Homo sapiens: one gene and its partner. The gene in region 2 interacts genetically with the main gene of each other region. Each region holds a gene or a part of one and is shown on either strand. Other genes may lie near its edges. The genes, in order: RAB10 and EIPR1.

Region 1 (3,821 bases), about 23 Mb from region 2:
AATTTCTACGGGGGGGAATTTTTAAAAAAGCAATTGGGATTTTGATAGGGATTGCACTAAATCTGTAGATCACTTTGGGTAGTAATGCCATCTTAATATTGTCTTCCAATTCACAAATAATGGCTATCTAATTATTTAGATCTTTAATTTCTTTCAACAATATTTTGTGGTTTTCTGTGTTCAAGTCTTACACTCTTTTGGTTAAATTTACTCCTAAGTATTTTTTGCCTTTTGATATTATTACAAATGGAAATTTATTCTCAATGTAATTTTTAGGTTATTGCTAGTGTACAGAAATAAAGCTGATTTTTATATGTTGATCTCATTTCTTGTAACCTTGCTGAACTTGTTTATTAGTTCTAAGAGTTTTCTGGGTATATGTTTGTGGGTTCTTAAGGATTTTCTATATAAAATATTCTACCATTTATAAATAGTTGTTTCACTCTGGATGGCTTTTTTTCTTTCTTTCTTTTTTTTTTTTTTTTTAGCTCTGGCTGGAACTCAGCATAATGTTGAACAGAAGTGGCCAGAGTAGATATTCTTGCCATGCTCTTGATCTTAGGGGACAGGTACAATAATAGCTGTGGTATTTTTATAGATGTCACTTACAGGATTAAGGAAGTTCTTTGCTATTCCTAGTTTGTTGACTTTTTTTTGAGACAGAGTCTTGCTCTGTCGCCCAGGCTGGAGCACAATGGCACGATCTTGGCTTACTGCAACCTCCACCTCCTGGGCTCAAGCGATTCTCCTGCCTCAGCCTCCCGAGTAGCTGGGGTTACAGGTGTTTGCCATCACACCTGGCTGATTTTTGTATTTTTAGTAGAGACGAGGTTTCACCATGTTGGCCAGGCTGGTCTCGAACTCCTGACCTCAGGTGATCCACTTGCCTCGGCCTCCCAAAGTGCTGGGATTTACGGGTGTGAGCCACTGCGTTTGGCTGACTGTTTTAATCATAAAAGAATGTTGGATTTTGTCAAATGTTTTTTCTGTGTGAACTGAGATAACTGTATGGTTTTGTCGTCTATTAATATGGTGTATTACATTGACAGGTTCTGACCCTTGCATTCCTGGGTAAGTTCCTCTTGATCATGTTATATAATCCTTTAATACACCAGAGAAACAAGATTTCCTCTTTCTTTCTTTTTGAGACGGAGTTGCACTCTGCTGCCCAGGATGGAGTGCAGTGGTGCAATCTTGGCTCACTGCAACCTCCTCCGCCTCCTGGGTTCAAGTGATTCTCCTGCCTTGGCCTCCTGAGTAGCTGAGACTACAGGTGCCCACCATCATGCCCGGCTAATTTTTTGTGTTTTTCATAGAGACAGGGTTTCACCATGTCGACCAGACTGGTTTCAAACTCCTGACCTCAGGTGATCCGCCTGCCTCAGCCTCCCAAAGTGCTGGGATTACAGGCATGAGCCACTGCGCCTGGCCAAGATTTTCTTTTTAAATAACTTCTTTTCTTTTTCAGAGACAGAGTCTCACTCTGTCACCCAGGCTGAAGCACAGTGGTATGATAATAGCTCACTGCAGCCTTGAATTCTTGGGCTCAAGCAATCTTTCTGCCTCAGCCTCCCAAGTAACTGGGACCACAGGTGTACACCACCACACCCACAATTTTCCTTTTTGATACCTGGGTTGTATGTTTCTCAGTTTATCTTGGGAAACAAACCATCCAGTCTACCATGTCAGATGTTTAAGTCTGCGGTATAATAAAAACATATATTAGGTCTTTGTTCCCAGTTCCTGTCACTGACCTCCCAATTTCCTGAGTGACAGGGTTGTCTTTTGTTATTCATAACAAGATTCTTTTGACTATAATGAGTTTATGCTAATGAGGTGACTGATGACAAGGCTCCTATCTAGCTTCAGAATGGGGGCTGGTCTCCAGAGGAACCAACCAAGTGATAAGAGGATTGGAAATTTCAGTCCCACTTCCTGACCTCCTAGGAGGGGAAGGGAGACAGACATTACACTCAATCACCAGAAGTCAATGATTTAATCAATTATGCCTAAGTGATGGAACTTCAATTCAAAAATCTGAAAAACTGAGGGTAAGGAATATTCCAATTCGGTGAACACATCAAGGTGCTGGGAGAGGTGGCGTATCCAGAGAGGGGATGGAAGCTCTGGAGCCCTGCCGCTACTCCCCACATATGCCTCTCTTCCATTTGGCTGTTCCTGAATTGTATACTTTATAATGAAACTGTAATCCCAAGTATAGCATTTTCCTAAGTTCTATGACTCACCCTAGCAAATGATCACATGGAGTGGCATTGTTGGCATCCCCAAAATCTATAGCCAGCTTGGACAGAAGGCAGAAATGTGGGTAAGCCTGGGGACCCAGGACTTGCAAATGGCATCTCAAGTGAGGGCAATTTTGTAGGAATGAGTCCTTAAACTTGTGGAGTCTGATACTAATTCAGGGTAGTCAGTGTCAGAATAGCATTGAATAGCAGGACACCAGTTCATGTGGTAGAATCAGAGAATTGGTGGTTGTTGGAAACACACTGCAGAATCTCTAAACTGCTCTTACTACAGACTACTTACCTGAACAATAAAATAAAGAATAAGGAAATCAAAATAAAGCTTTTTTGTTTTAAGATTTGTATTTTTTTTTTTTTTTGAGATGGAGTTTCGCTCTTGTTGCCCAGGCTGGAGTACAATGGTGCGTGATCTCAGCTCACTGCAACCTCCACCCCCTGGGTTCAAGCGATTCTCCTGCCTCAGCCTCCCAAGTAGCTGGGATTACAGGCATGTGCCACCCCACCCAGCTAAGTTTGTATTTTTAGTAGAGACGGGGTTTCTCCATGTTGGTCAGGCTGGTCTCGAACTCCTGACCTCAGGTGATCCGCCCACCTCGGCCTCCCAGAGTGCTGGGATTACAGGCGTGAGCCACCGCGCCCAGCCAAGATCTGTGTATCTTTAAATAATTATTAAAAAATAATAAGCTTCTCCCAAAGATTTATTGTAGCAACAAAACAGTGGTAATGAGCCCTTAGGATTGCTACCATTAGGGGTATTATCTTGGGTCTAATATTGGTTTAAGACTTGGTCTTTGTGTATCTGGCCAAAATTTGCTTCAAAGAGTTACTGTTAACAAAACTCAAAGCCTAGAAGGTAGCAATAAGGCATGAAAAACAACTCTTAACAAGAAGCCACCTATGCTGTAGCAAAGAAACAGACATGCTTTGATACATAATTTTAACTTATAAAAAGTAACATCAGGCTGGGTGCAGTGGCTCATGCCTGCAATCCTAGCACTTCAGGAGGCCAAGGTGGGCAGATCACTTGAGGCCAGAAGTTCAAGACCAGCCTGGCCAACATGGCGAGACCCCATCTCTACTACAAATACAAAAATTAGCCGGGTGTGGTGGTGCACACCTGTAATTCCAGCTACTCAAGACACTAAGACACTAGAATCACTTGAACCCAGAAAGCAGAGATTGCAGTGAGCCAAGATTGTGCCACTGCACTCCAGCCTGGGTGATGAAGTGAGACTCTATCTCAAAAAAACCCAAAATACAGAAAAAAAAACAACATTTTCACATGCAATGGAACTATTTTCTTAGTTAGGTTTTTACTATATTAGTATTCCATATATTTCAAAATGCCTAGAAGCAATATTATATTTCTATAACATGAAAAATAAAGTTTTAAAAAATTACTACCGGACATTTCATTCATTCAATAAAAATTTATTAAGAAAAAATTCATTTCCAGAAAATCATTGTAAAATCACTGGTAGCTTCTATTTGGGGTCATCTTGTAAGATGGCTATACAGAGTTTTGGAGTAATTTACTAATTGTCTTGAATGGGGCTC
Region 2 (3,821 bases):
AGAGTGGTTGTAGCGGACGTTCCACACCCTGCAAAGGGCAAGGCAGCTGCTGAAATGAACTGTCACCCGCAGGCAACACCAACAATGGATCACACCGGCTCTGAGGGCCCCACTAGGCTGGGGCTCACGTTAGGCACTGCCAGGCAATCGGCCCCCAGTCACAGGGCCTGACATAAGGCAGTTTTCCGCTGAGGTTGGGTTTACTGCAGGTTTCTCTTAAGTCCCAAGAGACAGACAGGGAAGACTAAATGTTGGCTGAAACCTACAGGAGGAGAAGGCTTATCACGCAACATTTCAGACAAGCTTTCTAAAATTCGAAAAAAAAAAAAAAATACTGTCCCAGAAGCAACATGTGGATTAGCGATATCCTGTAATATCAAACAAGTCTCACGGCATCTTCCCAGTTGGCAGTGACTGTGGGTCCTGAGACCAGGGCATGGCGGCCTCCCGGGGCACAAGGGCTGTCCTTGGTTTTGGCTACTGGGATCAGCTTTCTTGCTGGCGTGGGTCCTAGAGCCTGGGAGCTTCTGCCTCCCGTCATGCTGAGGCCAAAACAAGCTCCAGGGCCCAGGTGGCAGACAGTGCCAGGCCCTTGACGCTAGGAGGTGCACCCAGCATGGCCAGGGGCACAGGGAGGCCCAGCCACTCAGACCACAGGAAATTCCAGCAAGTCACTGAATTTATCAGAAGTGTGCACTACCAATCCGGGGTTTTAACATACAGCTTCAGATAAGTAATTCAAACAATACAGAGATGCAGGCCATAGGGAGTGAATGCCCCTCTTTGACTTGGGGAGGATTCCTGATGAGATTTTGGCTCTTACTCTTTCAGACATTTCCTCCACATACCTGTGTCACTCACACTTGTGTACACCCGTGTGTGCACACACGTTTTATTTGCATAAAAATGGATTCATGCTATACATGCCATTGTACAACTTGATCTTTTTACTTACTTAGCAAAAAGTACCCAGCACATGAAAAACATTCAAATAATATGTTAGGGAGAATGAGTGACCTCAGAGATCTTCCCACAGCCACATAGAGATGCTCCACATTCTCCCGACAGCTGCATCATCTCCACTGCACGGATGTCACCTAATTTACTTAACCAGTCCCCTAGTGATGGACATTTGGGTGGTTTCCAGGTTTCTGGCATTACAAATAATGTTGCGTGAACATCTGTGCACATTTATTTTTGTATACTTGAACCAGCACTGTTTCAAGAGAAAACAGAATTTAATGTTTTTCTTCTTTTCCTACGTTTATAAATCACAAACATTCAGATTTGGAATTAGTGTTTCTTTAGGAAAAATAAAACTGGGTTGATTGAATGATTCACAGCAGCACAAACTAAGCTGGTTTGTGTCTTTCCCAATGGTAAAGTAATTAGCAAAATCAATTGCGTAATCCCCTCCTCCCTGAAGCAGCCAGGAGCGGCCCTACCAGTGGGAGTGCTCCTCCAGGGTCTTCACGGGTTCGGTGACATTTCGGGTGTCCCAGAACTTCACCTTACAGTCGTCTCCGCAGCTGGCCAAGTAGTACTGCTTATTGGGATTAAAGTCAAGGTCCCGCACCAGCTGTCCGTGGGCATTCTCTATGCAGTAGATCTGGCTGAGGGAGAAGGAAGAACAGCAAAGGAAAATAGTAAATGGATTAGGAAAAGCCACTGCGTGCTGCGGGCACACACTGGTTTCCCGGGACCCTGTCTAATCCCCCGGCCCAGGGTGCTCTCATCCCCTCGGCGTTCCTGCCCTGCAGGAAGAGGCTGGCGCCACCTCCTCCATCCCAGCAACCCTGTGTGGTCGCACCACGCTCATCTCTCCAGAAGCGTATCTGTGACCCTCTGGGCGAGCCGTGGAAGGAATTTTTGCTTTGTAGCCGTCAAAAATGTGACTTGGTATCATCTTGAGAATGAAAGCATGCCAGAGGGGCTGCAACAGCCATGGGGACACTGAGCCAGACATTTGGACAGGATGCCTGACACATTTCTGGAAGGACACAGTGAAGAAGGAAAAGAAAAAGACAGGGAGTTGAGGTAGAATATAGTGTTGGGAAATTTTATATATATATACATACATACACATACAACACAAAATATCTATCTATATATAGAACTATATATATACAGAGAGAGAGAGAAAGGGGGGGGCAGTGGGGAAGGCCATGGAAGCAGGAAGGGGCCGGCTATCTATCTATCTATAGATATATACAGAGAGAGAGAGAGAAAGGGAGGAGCAGTGGGGAAGGCCATGAAAGCAGGAAGGACCATGCCAGCTGGGCTTGCCATTCCACTGTCCACACCAGCTCCAGGTCCAACACTGCTGGTGGCCAGTGCAACCCACTCGCTCCAGGGTGGGAGAAGGGGACTGTTTGAAATGAGTCACACGGCTGTTCACAGTGCGTGCGTTCTCACACTCACGCGTGCATCTGTGTGCACGCCCACACATGTATGTACACACACATGCACACATCTATGCATGAGAGGGCAGACACGCACACACGCACTCACACATCTCACTTTGCCCTGGATCCTATGGTCCTTGGCTGCTCCTCGCAGGGTCTGAAGTCATAATATCCTGCCTATGGCCCTGATGTCATGAATCCCAGAGGGCAGGTCATCCAGTGAGGCTGGACAGTGGCTTGGAACAAAAGGCTGCGCCCAGGAGAGCAAAGAACCCATGGCCTGGCGCTGCCCAGCAGCTCCTACCTGCACGGCCTCCCCAGCACTGCCGTGGGCGGGACTGAAATCACTCCTGCATCATTTACCTTCCTCACCGCAGGCCTCAATGGGGCTGATGAGCAATGGGAAACTTCTGTGCCTTGTAATTTGCTTCCTTTATCTGAAGACCATCATTGTTCTCTGCTCTCCAAAGTAGAGGAACTCAATTCCTTTCATCTTTTTCTCTCACATTAGAACTCCCGGCCCTAAACCACTTTTAAATCTTCTGGTTTTTATATCCTGCACCTTTGCAATATCTTAATATTTCTTCCCTAAAATATAATACCTAAACTTTTAAATCTTTCAAGGGAAACAGGCAAAGGTAGAAAATTTAAAACTTGGCAAATTCCCGGGGAACTAGATGGACAGTCGCACGTGCACGATGTATTAACTAAAGGTTACTGCATGCTCCATCACCAGTAACTGTCACACAAAAGCATCATACCACCTAAAAAAGCACCAAAGGCATCCTGGCTCCATGCAAACCAAAGCTGCTTGCAAAAGGAGAAATGACAGTCAATGAGAAGGCGCCAGGACCCTCTGTGCTGCGCTGGCACGTCCTCACCACAGACACAACACGGGCAAAATGAGGCCACTGCCAGATGTCACCCATCAAAGCCACGGGCATCTTTTTGTTTGCTTATTTGTTTGGTCTGTAACGTCAGTCTTTGAGTTTCTTGTTTTCAGATACTGAAATTCTTCACATCCTTCAAAAAACCATGCAGACAAAGGACACGATGACCACAGGACATGGAGAAATGGATTTCAGCAGGACGTTCATCACGGGCTGAGTCTGTGGTTTCCAGCTTCTGATTAGGAAACCAAACAAGCCCTCTGCACGGACGTGCACAAAGGAGGAAGTGGCAAGTGATTCTTTATTAGCCCCTGAGTTTTCAGAGGGGCCTTGGAACTAAACCTAAAGTTGTGCCCCCACCCTGGAATCAACACGAGTTATTGCATGACATCCGTCTTTTCAGCTCGGTGATAAATTATGGTGTGCTGAGGGGATAAACTGTATCTTAAAAAAGCTTGTGTGGGCTTCCGTTGCCACAGCAACAGACGTGCTACCATCACTCCTTTGCCTATCAAAATCACAACTG

The links.
Region 1: changes in EIPR1 (region 2) and RAB10 are lethal when combined (synthetic lethality), as found in Homo sapiens cells (one study listed by BioGRID).

Annotation. Positions count from the first base shown.
Region 1 is NC_000002.12:26,110,409-26,114,229, reverse strand, and holds part of RAB10 (ras-related protein Rab-10), read right to left. Parts: intron 1-3,821. UniProt on the Homo sapiens protein: The small GTPases Rab are key regulators of intracellular membrane trafficking, from the formation of transport vesicles to their fusion with membranes.
Region 2 is NC_000002.12:3,192,554-3,196,374, forward strand, and holds part of EIPR1 (EARP and GARP complex-interacting protein 1), read right to left. Parts: intron 1,614-3,821; coding exon 1,446-1,613; intron 29-1,445; coding exon 1-28. UniProt on the Homo sapiens protein: Acts as a component of endosomal retrieval machinery that is involved in protein transport from early endosomes to either recycling endosomes or the trans-Golgi network.